7 separate regions of the Homo sapiens genome follow, and all the other regions are linked to region 5. Evidence: fine-mapped expression QTL. A gene starts in region 5. Each other region holds a variant in brackets. All regions are shown on one strand. Distances are from middle to middle.

The links. PIP is the estimated chance that this variant, and not a neighbour inherited with it, causes the effect.
Region 1: its variant is fine-mapped to the expression of ZNF514 in whole blood (INTERVAL, PIP above 0.99).
Region 2: its variant is fine-mapped to the expression of ZNF514 in aorta (GTEx, PIP above 0.99).
Region 3: its variant is fine-mapped to the expression of ZNF514 in whole blood (INTERVAL, PIP above 0.99).
Region 4: its variant is fine-mapped to the expression of ZNF514 in esophagus mucosa (GTEx, PIP above 0.99). The same link has a PIP of 0.9 or more in whole blood.
Region 6: its variant is fine-mapped to the expression of ZNF514 in gastroesophageal junction (GTEx, PIP above 0.99).
Region 7: its variant is fine-mapped to the expression of ZNF514 in whole blood (TOPMed, PIP above 0.99). The same link has a PIP of 0.9 or more in tibial nerve.

Annotation. Positions count from the first base shown.
Region 1 is chr2:95,399,177-95,403,242 of GRCh38, reverse strand. It overlaps FAHD2A (fumarylacetoacetate hydrolase domain containing 2A), which reads right to left and starts at 535. Exons shown (of 8, transcript NM_016044.3): 1 at 371-535. RefSeq lists enhancers at 1-825, 817-896, 826-1,765. The variant G/T (reference allele first, on the strand shown) is at 2,285.
Region 2 is chr2:94,725,543-94,729,608 of GRCh38, reverse strand. It overlaps the pseudogene CNN2P11. Among named protein-coding and RNA genes, the nearest start is that of FAM95A, 34 kb to the left of the region's middle. The variant A/G (reference allele first, on the strand shown) is at 1,723.
Region 3 is chr2:95,282,120-95,286,185 of GRCh38, reverse strand. It overlaps PROM2 (prominin 2), which reads right to left. Exons shown (of 24, transcript NM_001165978.3): 14 at 3,960-4,044; 15 at 1,071-1,217; 16 at 476-547. Among named protein-coding and RNA genes, the nearest start is that of PROM2, 9.7 kb to the right of the region's middle. The variant A/TGAAA (reference allele first, on the strand shown) is at 2,415.
Region 4 is chr2:94,874,639-94,878,692 of GRCh38, reverse strand. It overlaps TEKT4 (tektin 4), which reads right to left. Exons shown (of 6, transcript NM_144705.4): 4 at 3,695-3,917; 5 at 2,951-3,105; 6 at 1,870-2,140. The coding sequence ends at 1,924. All of the region lies in intron 8 of LOC442028 (a long non-coding RNA gene), which reads left to right. Among named protein-coding and RNA genes, the nearest start is that of TEKT4, 5.2 kb to the right of the region's middle. The variant G/C (reference allele first, on the strand shown) is at 2,005.
Region 5 is chr2:95,157,750-95,161,815 of GRCh38, reverse strand. It overlaps ZNF514 (zinc finger protein 514), which reads left to right and starts at 1,968. Exons shown (of 5, transcript NM_032788.3): 1 at 1,968-2,576. RefSeq lists a silencer at 1,892-2,141.
Region 6 is chr2:94,608,937-94,613,002 of GRCh38, reverse strand. No RefSeq gene overlaps it. Among named protein-coding and RNA genes, the nearest start is that of AQP7B, 24 kb to the right of the region's middle. The variant C/T (reference allele first, on the strand shown) is at 2,058.
Region 7 is chr2:95,053,911-95,057,976 of GRCh38, reverse strand. It overlaps MAL (mal, T cell differentiation protein (MAL blood group)), which reads right to left. Exons shown (of 4, transcript NM_002371.4): 4 at 3,985-4,066. Among named protein-coding and RNA genes, the nearest start is that of MAL-AS1, 29 kb to the right of the region's middle. The variant G/A (reference allele first, on the strand shown) is at 2,263.

The sequences.
Region 1 (4,066 bases), 240 kb before region 5:
TCAGAAAGTGGCCCTGGGGCTTCTGCAACAACCACTATATCACACAGCCCGAGCTCAATCCAACTCTGCAAGAGTCCATAAGCAAAGGGGCGGCGACATGAGGTGGAAACAGTAGCCTCCATCAAACAAAGCCTGAGACATGGGTGTGCACGTCGGATTCCATCCCACCGTCCACTCGCCTGGAACCCGTGCCGGTCCCCCAGTTTCCCCATATGCCCAGCTCCAGCCCCGACAGTTAGTGAGTGCTCACACAGGTCCGCCCCGTCTGTGTGGTCAGAAGCGGCTGGGGATCCGGTACTAGTTCTGCGCTCCGCGGGAGACCGGCGCCACGGACACCCTTCTGGCCTAGACCCAGCCAGGCTCGTCCTACCTGGCCGCGGCGGCCGATCTTCCTGCGCTGTAGGGTTAGAGCTCGCGGGGCCGAAGGTCAAGGGCGGCGGGCGCCTGAGCACTGCCACCAGTGACCGCAGCCAGCCGGGGAAATGCAGCAGCTGCTAACCCAGGGCCACTCGGCCGGATCACCCGAGAGAAAAGCGGGCGCGATCCTGTGACGTCACAGGCAATGGCCACTAGCAGGGCGCCAATCCCGGAGGGGCGGGCCCATCGTGGGGCGGGCGGCTCCGGCGGGTCTTCAGGCTACGGGTTCAGCCAGGCGCCAGCCGCGTTCTCTGGAGACGCTCTCTCTCGGAGGGACCCTGCACTTGCCTGAACTCGAGAGTGGGCGCTGCCCGAAGGTTTGTCCCTGGGCGCTTCGCTGGCCTCATCCGGTCTCGGCCTTGTTCTGGGCCTGGCGCCTTTCCCATTGTTGGGGAAAGTGGTCTAGGAGACCAAGGCAGCGTGCTGGGTGGCAGAGAATGATTTGTGGCTTCTGATTCTGACATATGTCGTTGAGGAGGGGAGGGATGACTGCCCCCGTTTTACTTATGGAGAACCTGGGGCCAGAGCTGTTTTCCCAGGGTGACACAGGCGGTGAGTAGTGGAGCTGGCATTCCTGACCCCAAAGCGCAGCGTTTCCCAGCCACTCTCCGCAGCCAGGCCTTCACCTGCACTGCTGGGCGCAGGTGGGGAAGTGGGGAAACGGGACTCCATCCCCTGCAGAGGGCAGGCGTGTAGGGAGTGGCAGCTGAACTCCACAGACAGCTACTGCTCAGCTCTTCAGCTGCCGACTTTGAACAGTGTGAGGGGCTCTGTACAAGTGGCCCCCACATTACTCAAGGACCAGATCATCAAGAGCTTTACTTGTCCCACGAAGGAGTCTGGACCTTGTTTACGTGCACAGGAGACCGCTGGAAGGTTCTCAGTGGCGTGCCATGTCCCGACTTCTATTTGAGAAGTTTTTCTCTGGCCACCCGTCTGAGGAAAGGTGTCTGGGTGGGTGGTGCGGTTGAGAACAATGGTGGTGCGGTGCGTGGTGGAGAAGGTGAGTGTCCAGAGATGTTCAGGAGGAAGAACTGACAGCTCTGAATGACAGGAGGTGGAAGTGAGAAGGAAGGAGGTACAAGGCCAACTCCTGGGTCTCTAGCTCGGTAGGTGCAGGGCCGTTCATGGAGACAGGGCTCCTGGAGGAGCAGCGGGTCTGGGGAGAGGATGGTGAGCTCCGATTTGCATGGGACATCCAAAGGGCATTGAACGGTGGGCAGTTGGAGACATGGGTCTGGAGCTTGGGACTTCAGCCTAGCTTGCAGAAGGTCACCACAGATATTGAAATGGAACCTATGGGGGTGGCTGTGATCAGGGGGATTCGCTGAGGAGAACCTGGCACAAGGGTTTCACTAAGCCATAGCTCCCAAAGACTTTCTGAAAAGCTAAGTTACAGCCTGGAAGAAAATATCTGTAAAGGCTATATTTGATAAAAAGACTTGTATCCAGAATATAGAAAGAATGCTTAAAAGTCAGTAGATAAAATCAAACAATTCAATTTTTTAGATGGACAAAATATTTGAACTGACATTTCATCAAATAAGATATACAGACAGAAAATTGGGACATGAAGGCTGGGCGCAGTGGCTCACGCCTGCAATCCCAGCATTTTGGGAGGCCGAGGCAGGCGGATCACAAGGTCAGGAGATCGAGACCATCCTGGCTAACACAGTTAAACCCCATCTCTACTAAAAATACAAAAAATTAGCCGAGCGTGGTGGTGGGCGCCTGTAGTCCTAGCTACTGGGGAGGCTGAGGCAGAAGAGTGGCGGGAACCCGGGAGGTGGAGCTTGCAGTGAGCCGAGATCGTGCCACTGCACTCCAGCCTGGGCGACAAAGCAAGACTCTGTCTCAAAAAAAAAAA[G/T]AAAGAAAAAATTAGGACATGAAAAGATGCTCAACATCATTAATCATTAAGGATATGCAAATTGCAAGCGCAATGTGACACCATCTCACACCTACTAGAATGGACAAAGAAGACTGATTATACCAAGTACTGGCAAGAATGTGGAGGACCTGGGATTCTTGTACACTGCTGATGGGATTATAAAATAGTACCACCACGATCGAAAACCATTTGTCAGTGTATGAAGAGAATTAAACATACACCTACCATATGATGTAGCCATTTCAATCCTGACTATTGACAGTATTGAATTTTACCTTAGCCCTTTGCTTCTAGAAATAGTGAAGGTTAAGGAATCCCACCACTCTTTTGTTCCAGAAAACCCCCTACTGGAAAGAACCAGTGACTTTCTATATAACCTGGATAAGACTCCCAGATGCTCCCTTGTTTATCTGTGACCAGGCCAGACACAGACCCTCTAAATTCCCATTCTTGGCCTCATAAATGATTAGCTGGGCTGCTTGTCCCACAGATCAATAAGAACAAAAGCCTGTAACCAAACCTTGGTTCAGATTCTCTCCTTTTCCAAGCCCTTGAGCTTTGGCCCACCCACAGCTTGTGCCAACCCGCAGCCCTCCTGAGGTTCCCTCCTGAGAACAGGCTGTCCGCAGGGTAAGACCTCCTCGATCGTGACACTCTTGCTCAGCCCACTTTCCCATAACAGTTCTTTCTAGCCACGTTTACGCCTCCCTATACAAGATCAGCCCTTTGCCTAACCTCTGAGACACTTGCAGATCATATGGGAAGCCTGCGAGTGGCCGCACTGCAACGTTTCCCTATTGCAATGGTCACCCCCACAACAATCCTTTGGAATAAATTCGCTCCTTATATAATCCAGATTTGTTTTTTTGTTTTATAGTAATTACCTGAGAAATTTAAAAAAAATGCTTATGCAATGGCTTATACAGAAATGTTCACAGCAGCCTTTTTACAAAATCCCCAAACTGGAAACAACTCAATTTTTCATTAACAGGTGAATGTGTAAACACTCTGTTATAGCCACACTAGGGAATACTACCCAGCAATGAAAAGGGACAAATTGTTGATGCAACATGGATATATATCAAGATAATTATTCAGAGTGAAAAAGAGATTAAAAATGAGTACATATGGAATTATTTCATTTGTATAGAGTATCCTTGGGGGGTACTTTCCAAGACCCCTAGAGGACGCCTGAAACTGCAGATAGTACCAAACCCTACATCTGCTACGTCTTTTCCTATATATACATGCCAGTGATCAAATTTAATCCAGATGAAGTTAACCTGGTGCTACACGGTTGCTGTTCAATCAGAATATGTTTCTGTTCACGTCTTCCACCCACAAATCTAATGCCTTTTCCATCCTAACTAAGTGCTTCTCACACACTGTAGCCATAACTTTTGCAGTTTGAGGTGCGACAGCAAAACTGGCACAAATTTCTTTTTCCTTCTTCACAATTTCATGGATAGAAGATTCGTTCTTTCTGTAGCTCTTAGCAACCTCATTATGTGATTTTTGTTTTATTTCCTTAAGTCAGGAGCGTTCCCATAAAGGAAGGCTTCTCTTTGGCATATCGGAAATGCCGACACCACTCCCCTTTTGCTCTGGGGCCATTATGAAGTCAGATGATGGTGCCTTGCACAGAAGCACTGCGGTACCACGACAGTGGATCTAATCACGGAGCCAGCTCATTGGTGACTAAGGGGCAAGGAGGGCAGACGTCATGGAAAAGCTGAACAGAGGAATGATTCTTGTCCCAGG
Region 2 (4,066 bases), 430 kb after region 5:
TCACGAGCTGCTGTTAAATGAACACCTTGATATCTTCGTTCTTGGAGAGAAATGAGCCAAGGAGGAAGACCATCTAAAAAAAACCACTAGACAATTTGTGCTCATTGGAGTGGTCTCTGCTGGGCAAAAGGTCTTTAGAATGACTCATGGATTTTCTGGCAAGTGGCAAACCACACAAGTGCTATGTCAGGCCAGGAAGACAGGTGCAGCCCTGTCAGTGTCAAAGAAGAACACTGGTAGCAGAAGAGCTAAGAGTGAATGAAAATTGAATTATCTTTATTTCTAGGACTTGTCTATTGAGAAACAACAGTGCTGGCAACCATTTACTACCAACAAGAGGCAGTTCCAAGAGAAGAATATAAAATATGCTCTGCTCAATCCCACAAAACTCAGAGTGTCTCACAATGGCCAATTTCTTATTTTTACCCTGTCCAGAGACAAGGAAGGATGCATCAGGGAGCTGCTGGCCTCTGCGATGAATAACTTGAGTCAGCCTGCAACATGTGAAAGAATTCAGCTGATCAGGATTTATAACACTAGCTGGATTTTTTGCTTTCTCTGGGGTTCATGAAGCATGGTGTTGTGAGATACCATAGGAGTCCCAGAGTAAAGTTACATACCTACTTCTCTTCCTTATTTTTATTTTTTTGGCATGTTCATATTATTTTATTACCAACATCGTTGGCATCCCTGAGTATGAGAGTTCAGAAGAAACTTAGAGGCTATTGTCTGATTCAATCCTTGCAGCTTACAAAAAGAAATGCGGGGAGCAGTCACTGCGTGACTAGCCTGAGGTCACTCAGGAAGTTAGAGGCAGAACTGCAGCCAGGGTCACCTCTCTTTACTGCTACTAGTGTGCTCTTTCTACTGCACCCTGATCACAAAACATCTCCCAACCCAGGAACAAGGTCTACCGCATAGGTGAGCACAGCAGCATGATCACTCTCTCAGTCATCTGTACTCCTCCTTTGCTTTGACCAAAGACACAGGAAGGGACATTTTGCCCCACATAAAACACCTCTCAAAGGCTTGGCAACAACAACAGATAATAGAGAGCATTGACCTAAGACCAACATTTCAACCATGGTGTCAAAACAATATTTTATTTCAGCAAAGAAAAACTATGTCACAAGTGGATTATTATTACTAATAATCAGACTAGTGGTACTTGCGAATGACTTGGTTTCATACTCACACTTGGACAACTATGCACACTGAGTATAACTGACCTTATGAGAACATCATTCTCACTAAGATTATGATGTGCTTTCTCACGTGGGAACTGTACATAATATTGCATGTACCCTTGGGAGGATGTCCTGCCTGTGATGTTGTCTTTCAGGGGAAGAAGAATGGTTGAGAACTGAGGGTATATTAAACATTTACTTTTCCAGATTTTTCAAGATTTCTGTTAAGCGAGATCAGAAGAAAGCCATCTATTTGGATTGCATCACTCTAACCTGGTAAGTCGAATTGTCTACACAGAATTATAATTTCACGATATGTCCAGATTACTTACCGAGAGCCAATTTGAGACACCAACAGGACTAGTAAAACATCTTTGCCCTGTGGGTAGCGTTGCTATCAAAGACCTTATACATTATGTCATTCAAGAACCTTTATATTAAGATCCTTATGGAAAATCCTTCCCGAAGTTTAACCCTATGATAAAGGGTTTTTTTCTCCTGGTAACATAGTGGGCAATTGGGAACTGTTTAACCC[A/G]ATGCATTGATTTCATTGATTGTTTTGGTTGCCGAGAAGTATGGATGCTCAGAACAGGTTTTCTTGTTTTCAACTGCTAATTCCTTTATTTAAATTGTAATAAATGTTTCCCTTTACTTCTTTCCTTTTTCTTTTTAAGAAATTTAATGTATTTCCTAATATATTATAAATTATTAATAGATCAATTAGCATAGAATAATCTGGAATAATGCTTAGAGATCTCCCATTGAAAAAGACCCCAGTACCATAGGGTTCACAGCTGAGTGTTAACTGAACTTGAACAAATTCTGATTTTATTTAAAATGATCAAAGCCTAGTAAAAAAATTCCTGCAGATCATATGGGGCACATAATAACTAAAAAAAAAAAGAAAAAAGAGGGGTGGCTTTCTTCAATTAATTTTATAGTGTAATATCAAAGCTTAATAGTTAATATATTTCATCTAATGTAGAATGTCAATGTTTAGAAATCAGACATTATTTCATGTACCATTAGAGATATACTGCCAATTAAACTGTGACTTCCTTACGAAAAGCAAAAAAAGGAATTTTAAAGATATTAAAACATGTAAAGAAGAATATAAGCACTATACTCCCAATCCCTTCAATTAACATGTTAATATTTTATTGCATTGGTTTTCAGTAATTACTTTTAATAAAATAAAGCATTATTAGCTAATGTTCCACCCCTACCACTCCAATCTCATTCTCCTTCTAGGTGCCCCAGGCCCAATTGCTAAAATAAATTTGTTGTACACTTTAAAGTCAATTTTCTATACGTTTGCACATAAATTTGTGTATTCGTAGAAAGTATTTTTGTGCTGAGAAGGTACAATAAGCCCTTCAAAGTTGTTGATGTTCAGATTCCAGTTGGCAAAAGTCTTACACATGTGACATTAAATATTTTCAGTATTAAACATGCACATTCCACAAGTTCAGCAGTTCTGTATTATATATCCAGAGTCTGCCCTGAGGGATGCTTACAACCTTAGTATAAACTCTCACTCACCCCTTTTAGAGAATAAAACTTACACCTATGTAATGACCAGTCCAGGTACAAGGGTGTCCTCTAAGAACATTCATTCATGTACTCAACAAATCTTTATTGAGCACCTGCACATTTCATGCCAGGGAGGTGACCTGTGTTCTCCCTACACAACAGGAGAAAGAGTGGTGGCATCGGCAGGAAAGTGCAGTGGAAAGGAGGAGCTGACTTTGGCAGGAAAAAGAACGATATTACTTTGAATTTATCAACTCTGACGTAACATCCTGATAAAAAGTGCCATATCCAAATCACGTTGAAGATTCTCAAAGGACAGTACCAAAGTTGAATAAAAACACAGTGCCTCAAATGGGAAGTGGTATAGAAAGGCCTGAGGCTGGGGTATGGAGGCACACGGGGTGCAGAGAACGAGGGAAGAGAAGAGTGAAAAACTGCTCGGGGTGGGGTGGCATTGATGGCGAGAGATGGGTGTAACATGCATTTATGAGGACAGACATGATCAGGTTTAAAGAAAAAGAATTTTTTCTTTTTCCAGCAGTCCCACTACGTGGCATTTATCTACAGGAAAGGAAATCAGCATATTTAGGAGATACCTGCACCCTCATGTTTATAGCAGCCACTATTCACAGTAGCCAAGTTTAGAATCAACCTAAATGTCCAAAAACATAATAGATTAAAAATGTAGTATCTATTCACAGTGGAGTACTATTTAGCCGTAAAAATAATGAAATCCTGTCCTTGGCTGCAACATGGATCAGGCTGGAAGACTATATTAAGTGAAATAACCTAGGCACAGAATTATAAATCTTGCATGTTCTCACTCATATGTGGGAGCTAAAAAAAAACGAACTGAGCTCATGGAAGTGGAGAGTAGAATTCTGGTTATTATAGGCTGGGGAGAGCAACAGGGAGGAGAGGACAGGGAGAGGTTGGTTAACAAATACAAACTTACAGCTAGATAGGAGGAATGAGTACATCTATGACACCAAGCTGGGAATCGACAAGTGTGACAACTCCTCCATGTCCCTGAAGATGGGATACAGTCAGGGCGCTCATCAGAGCAGCCAGGCCTTCGGCCTGGGCCCACAGATATACGACCCCAAGTACTACTGGGGAGGCCCAGTGGCCCATGGCGCTCCCTCGGGCTCCGGTGACTTCCCGGGGCCAGGGGAGGCCCCTGAATATCTCCCTTACCACCAGGAGGAGACCGGCTACTGAGGCTCCCAGCACGCTCTCTCCACACATGGTCTCCCCTTGTGGGTGTTTGGGTTTTTCTGTGTTTTCATCTTTTTTTTTTTAAGCTGTTCAGTGCTGCCAGTCAACTGAGGGTCTGAGTGGCAGCG
Region 3 (4,066 bases), 120 kb before region 5:
GGCCTATGGGATGTTTCAAAGAGAACTTTTAAACCCTAAATAGTTATAAATACAAAATGCTATTTTTCCCCTCAAGGGCAACTGCCATGACATCTCATTCATCCCAATGTCCTCACAGCACCTGTCCCAGCAAATCCCACAAGTGGCACACACAGAAACACCTGCCCAACTGCGTGAGGCCAGAGAAGTGATTTCATCTGCTCTGAGATGGAGGACAGTCCACCCAACAGATGAAGAACCTCCGGCTCAGAGATGCTGCATGTCTTGCCCAAGGCCACACAGCCAACGGGTGGCAGAGCTTGAGTCAGAACTGATGCTGCAAAACCCTCCAGCCCAGCCAGGGGTCAGGAGCCTCAGGCCTCACTGGTGGGGGTCCTCAGTTCCCTGCCTTTGCCCTCACATCCTCCCACCCTTTCCCGCCTCCCAAGCCCCCTGTGGCTCCTGCTGCCCAGTCGGGGCCCTGTTTCCCACTCACTTGGGCCTGGGCCAGTCCTTGCAGCTCCTGGGCCAGCTGCTCCATGCTGGTCTTCACCACGGGCCTCTGGATCTGCAGGTGGACAGAAGAGGCCAGGAGGGATGAACCCAGCTCCCCTGGGGCCCACCACCACCTGATCCCAGCCTCCAAATCCCCAGTCTTATCAAATATAACCTACACCAGCTAAGTGTATTGTGACACATCAGTCACAGTGAGTTTTCCCTGGAACTGTGAAATATTTCAGACATTTTCCCAGTGAGATAGAAACAACAAGAACAAATAAGGCACCCTCTGGTGTAACTAAGGAAGAGGCAACTTCCCAATGCGTCCTCGGCAGCAGTGGGTTCAGGACCATGAACAGCAACACATGCTGTTGGGTTGGGGGAGAGGTTGTCCATTCCTGTGTGACCGGGGTGGTGGCAGGAGGACAGGCCCAGGGGCACATGATCTGGGGACACCTCCACAGGAAGAGGCCCCAGGAAATGTGGAAGAGCCAGAGCTGGGACAAGGCAAGATGCACACCCAGCTCCTCTGTGGGCCCCTTCGTTCCATCACCACCTGCTGAGGAAGCCCTGCTGAGGTGCCCACCGCTGACCTGAACGAGGAAGTCGGGGTAGTGGATGCGCTGAAGCCCACTGCTCTGCAGGGCCTCCAGGTCCCGGCGGGCGGCTGAGCTCAGCAGGTCCAGGCTCTGTGTGTCTACTTTCAGGCTCTGCAACTCCTGCCGTAGCTTGTTGGTATACTGGGAGAGCAGGCGCAGGGTGGGAGTCATGCCCAGTTGCTGAGCCAGGACCCCAGAGATGCTCCCCTAAGCACAGGGGTCACCAGGCGATATGGTTTGGATATTTGTCCCCTCCAAATTTCATGTTGCAATGTGATCCCCGGTGTTGGGGGTGAAGGTGGGCCTGGTGGGAGGTACTAGATCACGGGGGCGGATCCCTCACGTATGGCTTAGTGCCATTGCCATGTGATGAGTGAGTTTTGCTCAGTTATTTCACGTGTTTGAAAGAGTGTGGCACCTCTGCGTTGGCTCTCTCGTTCCCTCTCTCCCTATGTGATGTGCTGGCTCCCCTTGGCCTTCGGCCATGAGTGGAAGCTTCCTGAGGCCTCCCCAGAAACGGCTGCCGGTGCCATGCTTCCTGTACAGCCTGCACTTAAACCTCTTTTCTTTATAAATTATGCAGCCTCAGGTATTGCTTTTTTTTTTTTGGTTGGGGAAGCGGACAGGGTCTTGCTCTGTTGCCCAGGCTGGAGGGCAATAGCACAATCACAGCTCACTGAAGCCTAGATCCCCCGGGCTCCAGTGATTCTACCACCTCAGCCTCTCGAGTAGCTGGGACTACAGGTGCAAGAAACCACACCTGGCTTTTAAAAAAAATTGTAGAGGAGGGTCTCCCCATGTTGCCCAGGCTGTTCTTGAACTCCTAGGCTCAAGTAATCCTTCCACCTCAGCTTCCCAAAGTACTGGGATTACAGGCATGAGCCACCATGCCCCAGCCTCAGGTATTCCTTTATAGCAACACAAGAACAGACTCACACAGCAGGCCCTCAGGGCCCCCTGCCCTGGACACCCCAAGCCCCAGACAGGCTCCCAGTAGGCCCCTGCCCCAAATGCCAAGACCTGGCCTTCCTCCAGTGCCCATCTGGCTTCTGGGCAGAGACACAGACCTTCCCTGGCCACCTGAAATAAAATAGCTCTCTCAGCCGCTCTTTATCCCATCAGCTGTGTCGAGGCCTTCAAAGCACTTGTTGCTCTGAAATGATCTTATTTGTGGGTTAATTGTTCAATGCTGTCAGCTCCACAAGAGTGGGACTTTGCCTGCCTATTCAGCCCCAAACCCCCAGCATCTAACTCGGAGGGTCACACATGGTGGGCAGGAGACAAGTTTGTTAGCTGTGTGAATGAATGAATGAATGAATGAATGAATGAATGAATGAA[A/TGAAA]CTGTATTTTCAGGAAAGAGCCTTAGCATTTTCCTACTATCACTGGAAGAGATTTAGAGGTCATAAAAGTCAGCCCAGTGTTTAACAGATAAGAAACTGAGGTCAGAGTGGAGCGTCCACTTGCCGAGGTTACACAGGTGGTTAGAGACTGCAGCCCAGCTTGGCTCTCCTCCCCGCATCCCTCCAGGCTGCCTTCTCCTGGAGGAGAAAAGGCCTGGCCCTCTCGGGTGGGGGCCTTCGGGCCGTGTCTCAGGCATCAGTGGCAGCAGCTTCAGGAGAAGTGGAAAGGTGGCTGGTGCCCTCCCCGTGCTCTGGAAAGCCCTGTGTGTTACTCATGTCTGCCTACCCATCAGTGTCTCCTTTGAGGACGAGGATTCTTACAGCCACATTTGGTACATTGTCAGGTGGCCTCAGAGGACTGCCCAGTGCATCTGAATCCAAAGCCCTATCTATCCAGACTCTCCTGTGAGCTGGACCCTCCCCTGCCAAGGACCAGAGCCCAGGACTCCTCCCCTCGAGAGCCATGGCTTCCTGCCAGTAGAGGATGGGGGCTCCTCTGCCCAGGCCCCTGGTTCATCCCTCCCTGGCCAGGCTTCCTCCACAGGGCAGTGTCTCAGCCTAGCACTGAGATATCGCCTGCTCGGGGAGCTCCTGTCTGGTTAAAGATGCGGAAGGAGGAGTGAGCTGCATAACTGTCCCAGGTTGTGCAGTTCAAGGTACAGAGTTGGGGCTGGGCCATCCGGCTGTGCTGTCCGTGGGCCGAGGCTGGTTGGTGGATCCAGGGGTTGGAAGGGTTTCCCAGAACGATGCAAAATCAGGAGTTAGCATGCTCTGTGTTTGGGGAGGGCGAGGGGAACCAGGGCCAGGGGATGTGGGTTTCCCCAGCATATGCTTAGGAGCGTGGAAGTCGAGGAGTGAATGTCTTCCAGCTGCTGTGCACCATGAGGAGAGCCCCATTCTCAAAGTCCATCCCTCTTGTGAAACAGCCCTTCCTTGCCTTCATTCTAGAACTGTCTCTTTCCAGCATTGGCAAGTGTCTCCAGTTCTACACACCAAGTTCCAGTAACTCCAGAGGTTACAGGAAGAGGCTTGTCAGGCTGGGGATGGAATCCTGCCACCACCACCTCCCACCTGCGTGAGCTTGGCAGGCCCTCCACCAACGTTAGCCAGACTCACCACCATCCTTGTCACTGCCACGTCCTTCCCCAGCCTCCCCCTCCCAAGTGGAGCATCCCAGCCAATGCCTGTCCTCAGTCAGGACACATGGGCCCCCTCATCCTCCTGCTCACTGTCACCAGCCTTTCCTGCTGCCACCTTGGCTGTGCTTGGGGCTGGACATAGCCTTCAGGTGCACACGGACCCACCTACACACCCGGAACCTTCCCCAGAGCTGATAACTGGGCCTCTGCCCTTGGGCACCTTAATCGCTCACACAGACTTCTCAGGTCTCCTAGGTTCAAAGAGACGGTGCCTCCACAGAGGCAAAAAGACCAGAGGAGGGGGATCTGAGGAGGGCTCCTCACAGTTTCCAAAACGTTCTCTCACCTGGTTGATATCCAGGTGCTCCTCCAGGTCGTAGGAGTCGTTGAGCTGCAGGACTGTCCAGAGCGCTGCCCCTTCCTTGCACTGCCTGAGGAGGAGTGAGGGGTGCA
Region 4 (4,054 bases), 280 kb after region 5:
ACCACCTGCATCCCCCTGCAGCAGGCAGGGAGGGCTCTGCAGCCACCACCCACACACACCTGACCCCTCCCTGGCCATCGTGTCTAGGGTGGCAGGGAGTGAAGCCCCCACCCAACAACCTCCCCCCAGCTCAGGGGCCTTTGAGTTCACCACCATCTGCTTCACTACAGGTTTTCCCTGTGCTGGGGGTGATTGCAGGGAGATGGTTCTTTGGTGTTCCCTGGGCAGGTCATTGCCTCAGCTCCTGCCTGGTGTCCTGGAGCAGCTTTGAGGAGCTACATGGACAGGACACGAACTGTCTGCAGCCCCCAGGTGAGGCTTGGCTGCTGTGTCCCACTGCCTCTGCTCCTGGCTGTCAAAGCCCCATGGTAACAGCATCCAGGGCGAATTTAAATGGCACCCCAAAGAATAAGAGTGGGCTTGGGTGTTACTGTAGTGACTGGTGGTTTGCGACAAGTAGTAGTGCGGCTTCCGTGGTGACAGGAAGTGACATTTCCCCCTGAATCTGCACTGGAGAGAAGGTCCTGGAAGCTTTTGGGCCCACCCTCCAGGGTCTGGGTCTGCATCTCCGAGAGTGGCCAGGTGGGTAGAAGAATCCTCCCTGCCTGATAGTCGGGTTTGGAGCTGGGGAGGGACGGGCCTGGTTAGCAATGAGCCTATTGCAGTGAACCAGAGCGAGATAAAGCGAGAGACCCAGCCCAGACACCTCCTTCCCTGGTCCCAGCCCCTGTGCCTTGGCCTGTGCGGTGGAAGCCAGGCTCCCTCCTCCAGGAAGCCCTCCCTGCACTGCCTGCTCACACACAGCCTCTTCCAGATTTCTCCCCATCCAGGCTGAGTAAGATTCCCAAGAGGGCTCCTCCCCGAGGCAACTGCCTGCAGTCAACATTATCACCTCCCCCAGTGAACAGCAGTAGTGTTTTTCATGTTCAGCAGTGGCCTCTGGAGGGGTCCTAGCAGGTCGGGGAGAGAGGTCTGAGTTAGCCCCACGTGAAAGGCAGCCCATGCCTCTCCTCCCAGCAACCCCCAGCAGCAACTTCCACCTGGCTGACCCCACCCAGCTCACAGAGCTGCCCAGCTGGGTGTCCTTGTGGTTGATTGGGGGAAGGGGCTGTTACCTCCTGGTCCCCTCCAGGCTGAGACAAGAGCCCTGTGGGCCTGGATGTTGGAGATGGGACCCCCACCCACATGCTCTCCAGGTGGATGCCCACTCTGGGCTGTTCTCAGGCCCCTCTCCCCACACTGGGCCTACACCCAGGAGGGAACTCCATGTACCCCTGCCGATCTGCCCATCTGAGCCTCAGGGGTCGTGGGCACTGAGAGCTGGGCTGGGCTGAGCTCAGGTACACACTGTCATTGGGGACAGAGAGGGGATGCTGAAGCGGGCGCTTCTGGGTGGGGCCTGCCTGGAGGATCACCCCAGCAGGTGCACCTAGCAGCCAGACAAGCTTCTAGCAGAGTAAGCGCCCTGTCCACAGGAGTATGTGAGCTGAGGCTGGGGGCCTGGAGGTGCAGGGGGAGGAGTTGGGGAGATGCAGAGGTCCCAAAGATGTCCCATGGTCCTAAGACCCTGGTGAAGGAATGGAGGAGCCAGCACTGGTGGGGAAGTGGGGAGGGAGGAGCTGGATGGCCTGGCTCTGAGCTGGACACACCGTCTGCGCCCACACCTGAGCTGTGCTGTGGAGCCCCAGTCCCCACCTGGGCACTTCCTGTCCTCTCAGGCACAGGGATTCCTGGTTCTGGCTCTGACCCCTCATCTCCAACTGTTAGGATGATGAGTCCATAGGCAGAGCCAGCCTCACAGGGGACCCAAAGGCCAGTTCAGATGGACAGCAACTCGAGGTCCCACCGTGCACACACACACACTGTGCAGAAAGCTAACGCGCTGTTTATTTGGGGGACTGGGGGGAAGCACCGTGCCGCTGCTCACTGGTAGCCAGCCAGCTGCAGGATGGTGGGGTAGCGAGTACGATGGGCCATGCACTTCTGGCGGTCGATGAAGAGACT[G/C]TTGGTCATGGCGGCAATGTCCTTCTCCAGGCTCATGTGGATGTCCTCGAGGTTGCGCAGGGACTGCTCCGCTTCTAGAAGCTTCTCTCGCAGTGCTGTGAGGGACATGTTCAGCTCCTCCACCTCACTCAACAGCCTGGGGGTGTTGGGGGGGTGTGAGCCGGGGCTAGGGAGGGCAGAAGTATGCACCTACCGGGGTGTAGGGGACCCAAAACTCCCAATGGGAGCTGGCAGGAGGTCCTGGGAAGACTCCATGAAAGAACCCCATCAGGAAAGCAGCTCTAGGGCAGAGCATAAATTACGAGGGTCCTCCCAGGGAGCGTGGGCCTGAGTGGGAATGAGTGACCCGTGTGCAATCTCGACCCTGGCAGGACAGGACTGGCCTCAGCCGACCAGGCTCAGTTCTTTCCATTCCTGATACTTGATGGAAGGAGGCCCCCAGTTCCTTGAAGGAACTGAGGGGCAGGGAAAGAAGAAAGGTACTTAGAAGGGGCCACCGGGCATCCGTTATCAAGGGAAACAAAAGGACGGCACATCTATGCCTGTAGCGCAGGCGTAGGTCATACTTCCCACCAGAGGTGTGGACAGCACGCTCAGGGCAGCAGGGAATGGCCCTGCCTGGCCTCTCTGGCTCTGTGGCCTCCTGGAGCTCACCTTGTCTGAAGGAGCTTCCTCCCGGGAAGATGAGGTAGCATAGGGTGGGGTGAGACCACGTGGGCACAGGTCCCTGGCACTGGGAGCCCCCCGACCCATGACCTGCCCAGTGTCATGTGTATGTCTGTGTGTTTAAGGCATGCCTGCTTGTTGTGTGTGGCCCCAAAGTCTCCCTCCCCTCTCAGCACCTGCGGGGGATGTGTGTGCGGGGTGTTGGAGTGTTTATTGGAGAGAGTCACAGGGAGGAGGTGGACAGGGCCACCTGGGACTGCCTCAGAGGCCCAGGCAGCACCTGAACTGGGCTGCGTCACGGCACAGCTCCATGTTGGGCCGGTGCGAGCGCAGGTACAGCCGGGTCTGGGCTACGTGCAGAGGTGCCTCTTTGTCCTTGATGGCCTGCTTCAGTGCCGCCACGTTGTGTTCCTGATCTGTGATTTCCCGCAGTGTCTGCAGACAGGACAGTTCTCCTTGGGCCTGTGCCCCCATGCCCGGGTATATAGAACGCCGAGACCAGGCTGGTCCTACCCAGGTCTTGGGGCTGTGTCCAGAGGGCAGTCCTGACCAGTGGCCCTGGGGAGGCGTGGATGAGGGGAACAATGTGCACGGGGCCCCCAGTGGGCTCTGGAGAGTCAGGAAGCCTGTTGTCCCTTAGCTGTGGTCCAAGAACCCCCATCCTTGGTGGTCACCAGGACCTGAATCCTGCTCAAGGACTGGGGACTCAGAGGTGGTAAAGGCCACGCTGAGACCCTAGATTCAGAGCCCTGCCTGCCAGGCCAGGACTCTTGGGGACCTCCCGGGCGGTCAGTGTTCCCCAGACCACCTCCTGCCTCCATCCTCCCCACAGCTCCTCCTGCTGAGTCATAGGGGTGGCAACACCGGTCGATCATACCCAGTGTCACCTGGTTTTACATAGGTTTACGGAGAGGAGACACTTGCTTCTGGGGTCCCTCGGGATAAATGGGACAGAGGAGAAAGGTGTTGAGGGCCCAGGCCAGGTGATGAGAGGGGGCCGTCTTCGGGGTTCAGGGTGCCCCACCTTGTGCAGGTGGTGATGCAGCTTGTACCGCGCGTCCTCCAGCTCCTCACAGCGGCGCCCGAAGGCCAGGTTCACGGCGTCGCACTGGAGCCGCAGGTCCTCGGAGGTGTCGCGAAGGATGCAGTCCACCAGCACCCGCAGGTTGGCCGAGGCCAGGCGCTCGCGCTGGGCACGGCACAGATTGTCCTGCGTGAACTTGGCCCGGGTCTCCGGGGTGGAGGCGCTGCGGGGCGGGGGACAGCCAGGAGAGGGTCGGGGAGGCTCTGCCGAAGGCTGGGAGCCCTGCTGCGCCCCCATGCCCTGTCCGCGCCCCATGCTCCTGGAGGACGTGCATGGACTCCGATGCACCCCATGCTGCCC
Region 5 (4,066 bases):
GAGAGAATATTCCTGGGGTAATGAATGTGCATTGTAACAAACAAGGGCCTCTGGATCAAGATCTGTCCCAAAGGACACAATGTAAGAGTGGGGAATTTCAGACACTGCAGCAGGCCTACAGAATGGGCATCAGGGAAAGGCAGTGGCCCTCAAGTTCTTCTGAAGTAGTTCCATTTCTAGTTCTGTTGAGCCATCAATGAGATGAAAATCTTTTCTCATTTGTCCATCCCCTCACCTTTTTGGTTCGGAGCACCGAAGATGGAAAAGCTCCTATATCAGCCATGGTTCCCAGACAATGTCCCCCTGCGTGGAAAAGGGCTTGCTTGCTGCGCCATCCTGGCCATCTGTGCCACTGGAAGTGCTGGCAGAAAAGTGAAACAGAGACTGCAAAAGCAGGAAAGGAGAATGGTCTCTTTGCCTTGATTTCGTGTTATTTTGTCTTTGCCTTGATTTTGTAAGTTATTTTGTCCTGAACTCCTAAATAGGGTTGATAAACCAATCTCTCTGTCCTCACAAGTGGCCCTTCTCTGGCTGAGGACTGCCTCCAGAAAACCACCGTTTTAATACTCAGACTGTGTCTTAGGCATTGGCGCTGCTATAACAGAGTGTCTTAAACTGGGGAATTTGTAAACAACACAAATTTGTTGTTCACAGTTCTGGATGCTGGGAAATGCAATATCAACGTGCCAGCCAGTTCAGGGGCTGGTGAGGGTACGTTTCTCATAGATGGCACCTTCTGTGTCCTCACATGGCAGGAGGAGCAAAGGGGGCTTAAGGCCCGTTTTTATTTTTATTTATTTATTTAATTTATTTTTTGAGACGGAGTCTTGCTCTGTCGCCCAGGCTGGAGTGCAGTGGCACGATCTTGGCTCACAACCTCTGCCTCCCGGGTTCAAGCAATTCTCCTGTCTCAGCCTCCTGAGTAGCTAGGATTACAGGCGTGCACCACCACGCCCAGCTAATTTTTAAATATATTTTTGGTAGAGACAGGGTTTCACCATGTTGGCCAGGCTGGTCTCAAACTTCTGACCTCAAGTGATCCGCCCGCCTTGGCCTCCCAAAGTGCTGGGATTACAGATGTGAGCCACCACGACCGGTCTAAGGGCTGTTTTTAAAGGGCACTAATCTCATTCATGAGGGCAGAGTCTTCCAAAGGCTCCACTTCTTAATACTATCACCTTGGGAGTTAGGTTTCAACATATGAATTTGAGGGGGACACATACATTCAGACCATAGCAGGCCGTTTTTCCATTTCTTTTGGGTCCTAAATGATATTTGTTTCTGGAGTAGGAGGGCGTTCAAAGTCCTCTTTTGTTCTTCAGCACCCTTCGCTGAATTCAGGGGCAGATGGAGAAAGGCAAGAGGCACGGGGCAGCCTGTAGAAGCAGTATCTAGCACTGAGTCCCCAGTATCCCCTAGGCACGCCAGGAGAGCCTCCTGGAAATCCTCACTCAGCAGATCCAGGGTAGGAACGCGGCTTCTGTTGAATAGCCTTACATCGAGATATGCAGGTTGGGGGCGGTGGCTCACACCTGTAATCACAGCACTTTGGGAGGCTGAGGCGGGAGGATCATCTGAGGTCAGAATTCGAGACCAGCGTGGCTAACATAGTGAAACCCCGTCTCCACTAAAAATACAACAAATTAGCTGGGCGTGGTGGCGGGAACCTGTAATCCCAGCTCCTACGGAGGCTGAGACACGAGAATTACTTGTACCCAGAAGACAGGTTGCGGTGAGCCGAGAGCGCGCCCCTGCACTCCCACCTGGGCGACAGAGTGAGGCTGTCTCCCCCCTCCCCCCAAAAAACGAGAGAGATATGAGGCTCAGCTACCAAAGTCACGCGCGAGAAGGGAAATGCTTGTAGGTCCCTGCCCTTGGGGGAGAGCGGAGTGAAAACCGGCGCGTGGCCGGCGAGCACGGCCCCTCCCAGCGGAGGTCCTACAGGCGCCCGCGAGCCCCGCCTCTCCAGCTTCGCCGCGCCAGCACCCCGCCACCGGCGCTGGCTCTGAAGGGCCCCGGCGGCGGCCGCGTCTGCGCAAGCTCGGGACGGCCTCGGGAGGCGGGGCTGGCGCGGGGCGGACGCGGGGGCTGGCGCGGGGCGGACGCGGGGGCTGGCGCGGGGCGGACGCGGGGGCTGGCGCGGGGTGGCGGGCGGGGGCTGGCGCGGGGTGGCGGGCGGGGGCTGGCGCGGGGTGGCGGGCGGGGGCTGGCGCGGGGTGGCGGGCGGGGCCTGGTCCTGTGAGCGTTCGGAGACTGCGGGCGCGCAGACCTGTACTGGGCCCGCGCCCCGGCCCCTTACAGAGCTGGGTGTGTCCCTCCGAGTGCCCCCCGCTAGGGACTGTGCAGGCCGGAGCTAGGCAGGGACAGCGGGGCGAACCGGGCTGATAGAGTCGGTCCCTGCTCCTGTGAGGCTCTCACCGAATCCCTGCTGTTTCCGGGCAGCTGAAGAGCGCTGGGCCCTCGCGTCGCGGGCGTGGCTGTGGCCGTGTCTCCTGGTAGTCTGAGCCCACTGTGCGTGTGGATCCACGTGGGAGCTGGGTTCCAGAGCCTGGTCCTGAGGAGGAGCCGAGCCGGGGGTAGGAGGCCGGACTTGGCGAGGGAAGAGCACGACCCCGGGCAGCAGTGCGCCGCGCTGGGCGCACCGGGGTTTGCCGGCCCTGCTCTGGGCCCTGCAGGTCCGCTGGCCCCGCCGCGCCTAGTGGGGATGCCCCGTGTCCCCCAGGCAGCCCCAGCCTGCGTCCCGCTCCCTGAACCCTCGGGAGGACCACAGGGCTGTGGCCGAAAGACAGAGATTTGGACCTAGTGAAAGGACGCCGCTCCTTAGCCCCAGCTATGGACTCCACAGCATCAGGTTTGGCTCTGGAGCGTGCAGAGGGCCAGGAGCCCTCTTGGGGAGCTAGTACCGAGCCCGATATCAGGAGGACCCCAGGAAGAGGCCGGGGAATCCCACTGAAGGGTGAGGCTGTACTTCATCTGCCTTCCGTGTGGCGACATCTAACCTTCCAGACCCAGAAGGCTGAAGCCGCAGTCTCCTGGGTCTGGCAGGGGTCTCTAGATGACCGTGGCGGAGGTGGAGGGGATGGCCATGGAAAATTGTCCCAATGGCCAGAGGAGAGCAGAAGAGGATCTGATCTCTTCCTGCTGCGGCAGGGAGAGGGCAAGCAAACCCAAGAGGGAGTGGCCCTTGGCCAGGGATCAGAGGACGATAGGGCCATTTGGAGCCTTGTCATCCACCTCCTTAATCACCTCACTAATAAGGTTCTTCCAGTCGTTCTAGCTCAGCGGTGTATAAGGTCAGCAGTGTACATGGTGGGTATCTCCTCTGAGCCCCTTCCCCCAATAGCGTTGGGGGCAGGGCAATCCAGGTGACCCAGGAGGTTTTAAGCCAGTCCTAAGTTTAGAACGTCCTATCTCTAACCAGGTGGGCATTTTAATCCGACTGTTCATCCTTCAGTGCACATGCTCAAGGACACATAACTGGCCAGTGGAAGAACTGGGCCCAGTCCGTGGGCTTCCCACCCCCTCTTTTTTCCTTTATACCCTTGTTAATCAGTGTGGCTCTGGGAACAGCAGAGGCATTGCCCAGAAGTTCTCTAGAATTGCAGACTCTGGGGCCCCACACATCCTCAAACAGTGTCTTAGCAAGTCTTGAGCCAGAGTTTAACAAGATCCTCAGGGATCCACACACACATGAAGCTTGAGGAATGCCTAACTGTGCTATGCTTACACCCATGTTGTTAGCCTTAACTACTTCTCTGGCATGGTTTGGGTTAGTTTTTTTGTTTGTTTTAAGGCTTTTATGAACAGTATGATGCAAAGCTTTATAATGAAGGAGCTCTCAAGTGTGTTGCAGAGACCTAACAGAGCTTGGGAACACCAGGGGCAGCTTCTCAGAAAGAGGTGGCCTCTGAGCTGGGTTCCCAAGGATGAGGGGAGAGGTGTAACTTCCTCCCCTTAAAGCCTCATAATCCTGCATGGCCTTGCCTTGGGTCTTGTGTAATTGTTAACCTGTAGGCTAGATTTAAAGTTCCTTGAAGTTCTTTTCCATATTTATATTTCCAAAAGT
Region 6 (4,066 bases), 550 kb after region 5:
GCCCTTCACATGTTGGTGATAAATCCAAAAGTCCTGTAATGTGTTTGTTTTCTCATTTTTTAAAACCAAATATTTGAAGCTATTTTATTAAGGGTTTCCTTTTCCTCAAAAAGTAAATGCATTAAATATAATCTAGATATTCTACACTCATGAGAAAGATATTTCATTGTATATAACCAGAGCTATAGGCCTACAAACATTTGGACTTTATCAGAGGTAAATAATAAGAGATCATACTATTAGTTAAAATTAAAGTATAAATTTAGATAATTATTTTTAATTGGTTATTTTTTAAAGCTGACATAACTTTAATTTACAATGTAAACTCAGGAGTGAAAGAGCATTAAGTAACTCATGATCTGTAAAGAAAATTTCAAAATTTAAGGTAAGTAATGAGATTTCCCCATATTTCTGTGTTTAATTCATCAATGTTTTTAAAATACTTAAACCAGCTAAGAAGTGTGTTCAGGTTTCTATTTATTTTAAGAGTGACTTATGTATTTTTCTCACAAGGGAGGATGATTTTAGAGGAGTTTAGAGCCTGCATCGTGGTTCCAAGTTAGCATCACCGTTCCTGGTCCTTCCATCTTTCTGCTTAGTCATATTTAACTTGTGTTTATTTCTTCATGATCAGAATATGTGTCTTTCTCAACTATCATATGTATGTTCTAGGTAGAAAGGAGAAAAACAAGAGTTTATGTTGTTCTGTCAAATTATAGAAAGTTTATTTGATAATAAATCAACTGTTAAAAAGTACCCTTTAAAAGTATAATAAGTATACAATATTAAAAGAAAGCATGGGACTTTGCACAATTGTGAAATCTATTGAGAATTTTGTAAGTTTTTAAATTTTGATCTGTGCTGTCATTTATTAATTCAGTCAAAATTTGCTTCAAAAACACGTAGTTGTCAGAATATGTAAGTGCCTTAGAAGAGTGCAATCTATAAGTAAAATAATTCTGAATATTCATCTGAAATAGTTTGAAAAGGTTTTGAAAATCTACCGTCTCTCTTATTTCTTGTAATCAACATATTTTTCAATAGGAAAATTCACCATTTGCCATCAAAATGTATCATCTGAAACTTCCACTGGAACCTTCATATGGCAAAATATTTAGGCATTCTGAGGAGATGCAAAGTTTGGTAAGCAGAATAAATATGTTTTAATATTTAATAATTATAAATGATATTTGGAAAATTATAAAGATGTTCTTAGTTCAATTAATAGAGTAAGATTTATGTATCTATTAAGGCTGCTGGGCCAGACAGGGTGGCTCACACCTGTAACCCCAGCACTTTGGAAGCCCGAGGCAGGAGGATCACCTGAGGTCAGGAGTTCGAGACCAGCCTGGCCAACATGGTGAAACCCCATCTCTAATAAAAATACAAAAATTAGCAAGGCATGGTGGTGCTTGCCTGTAATCCCAGCTACTGAGGAGGCTAAGGCAGGAGAGTTGCTTAAACTCGGGACATTTCAATGAGCTGAGATCTAGCCACTGCATTCCAGCCTGGGCAACACAGTGAAACTCCGTCTCAAAACAAAACAAAACAAAAAAAGTGCAGGCAACACATTATAATCAATATTAAAAGTTTTTATGTTGAAAGATGGATAAGAATTAAAACTTTGATTTTTCAACTGAGAAATTTAGTTGAGATATTTGAAATTACTGGAAAGCAAAAGGAAATTTTAATGTACTGCGGAGTAGCCTAGGGTAGTATGTGTATGTATTTCTACTAAATGCAAAAGAAAGTACCAGATAAAAATGCAATAGGCTTCTACTTCTAGTTCAGGATGGGAAAAGATGGGGAAGACCAAAAAAGATCTGCATAATGCACAAATCCATGTGATTTCTGAAGGGAGTGGACACGATCAGTCTTGATAAACTGATAACCAGTTAGTGGATCTGCAGGTTTCATCTGTGGTATTTTCTTTTAGATGATTTGTGTAGTGACTAAAAAACAGTCAATACATTTAAATAAACTGCACATGGTGCACATGTACTCTAAAACTTAAAGTATAATAAAAAAATAAATAATAAAATAAATAAATAAACTTT[C/T]TTTCTGGTTTAGTAATTGAGGTTGGCCAATGTCTATTATTAATTGTTAACTATTTCCTAATCAATAATCTGTCTTATATTAAACTGTACATACACATTACAAGAAATTTGAGTTACACTCACACATAACTGAATAACATATTTAATGCTTATATAGGCATGCATATAATGTTAAAATCTAGATATAAAAATAAGAAAATGAAACCATGATTTTTAAGTAATGGAACTTGTTCCAAAAAATCAAATGTGGTTATGCATTGGTATGACAATTCTGAATCCTGCCCTCAGGCAGCATCTGAACACTGTTTTATTAGCTATCAATAAATTGTCTGCACTGCAGGCCGATGATGGTTTAAGGACAGCAGTGTTAATAATAATGTTCAAAGTGTCAGTCTGGAGGGGAGGCAATAATTGACTGTATGAGACTATTAAGCTATAAAAACAATGTTTTATTTTGAGCATCAAAATATGATAGAGCTTCAAATGCTCTTGGTGAAGTCATTATTAACACACACAAAACTGATTTTCATTCAACGTTTACTGTAGAGAAAATTATATTCCATCAGGCTTTAAAATTGAGAAGAAAACAGAAAGAGTAAGTCTTAAATGCCTTTCTTCCTCACCTTCCTCCTTCACCTAGTTTGCCTGCGGACCTACACAGTTACATTCCCACATACCTCCTGTGTTTATTTCTTTGCAGATCATTTACCTTACATTTCTACATTTCCCCTTAATTTTTTCCTCATCAATAGATGAGAAAAAAATTTGTTAAATCATGGTAGATGAATATGGACCAGATCATCCCATGAACTACGTTCAATCGTTGGTTTTACCTTTCAAAAAATTCTGAATGAAATATGTAATAATTTAATATTCTAAAACTTTATTTTTTCAGGAATATTTACATATATTCACCCTTCCTTCTAAAACAGTGGCCAGAGCAGTTAGAAAACAAAAGCATGAGAAACAGTAACTCCTACAGTTGTATTATGTCTGTATGCCTCCCCAGTTCTGCAAAGATTATGAGGATTTTTTTTAGGTCTGTACATAGTTTTAAAATATCCTAAAACAATCCACATAAATAAACTCATTACCATAATAATCTGCAAGATAGACATGGTCATCCTCAAGTAATATCAAATAAATCTTATTTGCCTGCGAGATCTGAATCTGAAAATCCAAAAGCTCAAGTTTACCTAGCTAATAGGTAGTAAGACTGGGGCCTCAATCTGGTTTATCTAATTCTGAAAACTGTTTTGCTATAAAAGCACTATAGGAAATAAAACATTAGACTGTATACCTTTAGATAATAAGAATATTTATGTCATTGAACCTGAAAAGATACTGTTTAACTTTCATGTTCTACTTGTCATTTTTCTTTTCTGCTTTTATATGTAATTTAGGTAATAGATACCCAGGAATCAACTTAAATTCCCATCAGTGGTAGACTGGAAAAAGAAAGTACGGTATATATACATCATGAATTACTATGCAGCCATAAAAAAGAATGAGATCTGTCCTTTGCAGCAACATGGATGGAGCTTGGAGGCCATTATCCTTAGCAAAGTAACACAGGATCAGAAAACCCAATACTCCCTATTTTCACTTATCAATGGGAGCTAAATAATAAGAACACATTGACAGAAAGAGCAGCACAATAGACACTGGGGTGTGCTTGAGGGAGGAGGATGAGAGATGGGTGAGGTTCAGGGGAAAAAAATTGTTGGGTACTATGCTTACTATTCAGGTGACAAAATAATCTGTACATCAAACCCCTGAGTCACGAATTTACCTAAAGAACAAACCTGCACATGTTCCCATGAACCTAAAATAAAAGTTAAAATATTTAAAATAATAATAATAATTTAAAAATGTGAAATGTTGTGATAATTACTAAAATGTCAAATAGAGACACCAGGTGAGCACATGTTGTTGGAAAAATAGAATGAATAGACTTGCTTGATGCAAGATTGCCACAAACCTTCAATTTGTGAAAAATGTGTTATTTG
Region 7 (4,066 bases), 100 kb after region 5:
CTCGTTACCTGTGAAGGAAGAGAGCAGCCACAGCTAGGAACCCCCGTGTCTGCTCCAGCGCCCCAGCTCTTAGAAGCTGCTGTCGCCGGGTATGATGCAGACAGAACAAAGGCCACTGAATAACGCGGAGTAGGAAAAATCACTTCAAATCTGTTTTTTCAAATCGCGTTATTTTAAATGCCCTGGGCGGATGCCCACGTGTGCAGGGACACTCAGCCTGTCCAGAGGCGCTTTGTCTCTTTGAAAGGCCTCTTTGTAACCCCACACCGGCCCCAGTTGATACCCAGAACAACAGGCCCTTGTGTGGGCCCCGAAGGCAGGCTCGCTCCAGCCCACGGCTGGCAGCGCAAACCCTTTGCTGTCTCTTTAAGGTCAGCGTAAGGCAGCCTTCAATCCTCCATTTGGGCTGCTTTGCAAAAATAGTCCTACAACCTGCGGGAGTGGGGGTACGAGATGCTTTTTAGAATTCGGCTCTCAAATGTTGAAGAAGCCCGGCTCATATAAGCTGTGTCTTCTCCAGAAGGGAAGATCGATGGGGCTCTATCATGTGCAGAATGGGGGGCAGGAGCTTAGCTCCCTGGGACACCTCCCAGGCCACCCTGCCCTGCACAAGGAAGGCCACCAGGAGGATACTCCCAGGATCGCCCCCTGAAGCAAGGGGGCCACAGCCTGGGAAGTCACAGGCCATAGCCTCCAAAATGTCCTGGCTGGATTTGGCTTATAGTTACCTTTTGCTGATTGCTCTCTGGTGATGTGCCCCCTCCCCACACACGTGTCCATAATGAATCATAAGCCCCATGGAGCTGCTCGAGGGCCATGGAAAGCAAGAAGGAATGCAGTGACCAAATCACTGTCCAGTGAAATCTACACCAGAGCGCTCCCAGACACTGTACCAAACCCTGGCTGCACCCCCATCAGAAACTCCCTTTCACCTGGCATCTGTCCACCACAAGGTCTCATCTCACTGTCATTTCCTGAGAGGCCAGAGGACAGACATGCATGAGCACAGGTCAGCTGGAGCGGCCCTGGGGCGCTGGGCCTGCTCACTTATGCGGCCGTGTTTATTGAGCACTGGCCCCGTGTCCCTCCTGGCGCCTGACCGGGCACTGCACGTTCCTGGGTCCATGGACAGCACACAAGCCACAGGGACAATCAGGGGAGGGGGAAGCCCTTAGCAGTGACCCACGAGGCCCAGTTGGTCCAAACCCCTCTGTTCTCTTCTCTGCTGGGCCCACAACTTGGTGGGGACAAAAGTGGGGTGACTGACTATGGTCTGGCCTATTCTGCAAGCTTTGGCTCTGAGTCACAGCATACACAATGGCCTCTTCCTAATCCTTTCTCAGGCTTGTGGATAGATTTAGCTCCTTATTCTGTGAGCTTAAAAATACCCAGTTCCTCACCTTTGCAAAGTATCAGCTGGACTTTGGCTTTGGCTCTATGGGGGCTGCAAAGTGGACCCAGCAGCTACCTGAGCTGGCGTGGCTGTGGCTGCAGCTCTGAGCAGCCAGCTCTTCTCCAGGAGACGCTGAGTGCAGGGCCTGGCCGTGGCCGTGGGCTGCTATAGGCCCTGCTGGTGGACTGGGGCTATCCTAAGTGCCTGGCTTCATCACTCTCTGAAGGCTCCTGCCTACCAGCATCCTGTCAACCACTAAATCTCACTGCCACTTCCTGGGAGACGGGAGGACGGCCCGCGTGAGGACAGGTCTGGGTGCCTTGAGGTCATATCAAGCCCAGGGCTTCAGGGCCAGAGGGAGGCGGCCCTCAGTCCAACTGCACTTCTCACCACCTGCACCAGCCTCAGTTTTCTCACCTGTAGGATGACGTGGCCACTGGGAGAGTGACAGAAAGCTATATATGGAAAGTGCTTACACAGTGCCTGGCACAAGGCAAGAGCCCCCAAAATGGCAGGGAAGATGGTTACACAAGAGTGAATTTGGGTCTTCTGGGCAGTTGCGTTTGATCTAAGTGAGGGCCACAAGCAGGCAGTCTGTGAGTGCCTTGGGTGGCACCAGGCTCTGCCTTAGAGGAGGTCCCCTCCTGTGTAAGACAGAGGCAGAGAGGTGAGGGGTGCCAGCAAGAAGCAGCTTTGGGGGCTAGAAACCATCCCCTCAATGGTCCCAGCACACAGAAGGTGCTCAGCCGGTGCCCCTCTCTGCAGCCTGCTTCACCCAGCAGGCTTCTCTAATGTCCCCATTCCCAACCCTTCCTACCCAGGCATCGTGGGCTCCCAGGGGAGCAGCACCCATGGCTGGCAGGGCTGCC[G/A]CCAGCACTCATGTGTACCTGCAAGCACAAAACAGCCAGATAGGGACAGAGCTGGGAACAGAGATGCAGGAGCAAAGAAACCCGACAGGGGCTGGGGTGTGAGGGTGGGGGGTGAGGAGGAAGAGCAAGACCGGAAGGGGGCATTTTTTGAGGCTGGAAATGAAACCTTGCCCATCCAATTTACATCCAATGTGAATAGGATGCAAGTCAAATGTGAAATGAAACTGCAAATTTAAAATATGCCCAGGGCTAGAAGGAATAAGAAAGTGGCGTCAGAGAACCATCTGCAAAGCCTTTGGCTAAATTAAAAATAGAGAAAGAGTATATGAAAGATTTTTTTAAAAAGAGAATGATTAAAATGTCAAAACATTGAGAAGCCCTTGGGAAACTAAGCCTTCCATTTCTCCTCCTCCTTCTCCCCCTCCTTCTTCTTCTTCTTTTTGATGAGGGTAAAAAGTGAGCTTCATTAACATGTTGATGGCTTCCTGTGGACAGTTTTGTTGAAAAATGAGACTTCTCTCAATCAACACTGGATGGAAATTTTGTTAAACATGTAACAAACTTCCTATTACTTCTCATTAGGTAAAGCCCCAGTCAAACCTTTTGCTCATGATATACTATGAAATGTTGGCTGTTTGACGTGTACTTACTAAGAGTGGCTGGTTTCTGGTACCAGTTATCCTGGATTAACAAAGGACCTCCTGAATAGACCAATTTAGTTGTAGACTCTCCAAGTTGAAGAGCAGTAAAATGTCAACTAAACTCACCACTTGAGGCTTGAATTTTATTTTTATTTTATTTTATCATTTTATTTTAGAGACAGGGTCTTGCTCTGCTGCCCAGGCTGGAGTGCAGTAACACCATCACAGCTCACTGCAACCTCAAACTCCTGGGCTCAAGTGATGCTCCCACCTCAACCTCCTGAGTAGCTGGGACCACAGGTACATGACACCGTTACAGCCTGAAGCTTGAATCTTTGTCCCCATGGCTGCCAGCAAGAGGTTGCAGATGCTCTACCACACACCTCCATGGCAGGAAGCTCACGGGTCTTCAAGCACCTCTTCCAGCGTCCCATCTCTGGAATGGCACTAACTTCTCGGAGCCATGGGATAAGGGAGCGTTTCATAACAGAGCTGGGCTTTCCAGATTCCTAACTCAGTGCCTCCTTCCTAATCATCCCATCTCCTTTCAACCCAGACATCTCAGACTTGAAACATGGCATTCACCCCTTGTCACCGTACTTCCTTTCACTCTGTAATTTCCTCTCCTTTCTCTCCTATGGAGTGGCCCGAGGAAATTCTAAAATAATGTATTATCCACACAATGGGAACAAAGCAGACTGCCCAGGAACACGCTGATGAGCTTCACAATGAGTGAATGAAAACTTGTGCACCGTGTTTTCTTTTGGTGGAAGGAGGTTCTAGTGGGGCACAGACTGTTGTGTCTTGTAGGAAGGAGAAGCTGCCCCTGGCTGGCACTTGGCCAGTTTCCAGAGAGAGGGGAAGCCATCTGGGCAGGTAGCTGGGAGGGTGGGCTCCCCAGCACCGGGCTCTGAGAGTGCAGTGGCCTGGCACACACAGTGTCCGTCGTCTGAACTGCCACCTGATGCTGTCTCTTGAGATTCAGGTTAAGTCAAAGGATTCCTCAGAAAGAAAGCTGAATTGATGGTATTCTTGATGCTGAGGAATTCAACCCAAACCCAAAAAACACCCAACAAATGTATTGAACATTAAGACATTTTATAAAGTATTTCACAGGGTTATCGTCTTCCACCATGGACCTCTGGAAAGATCTGTTGGGTGAG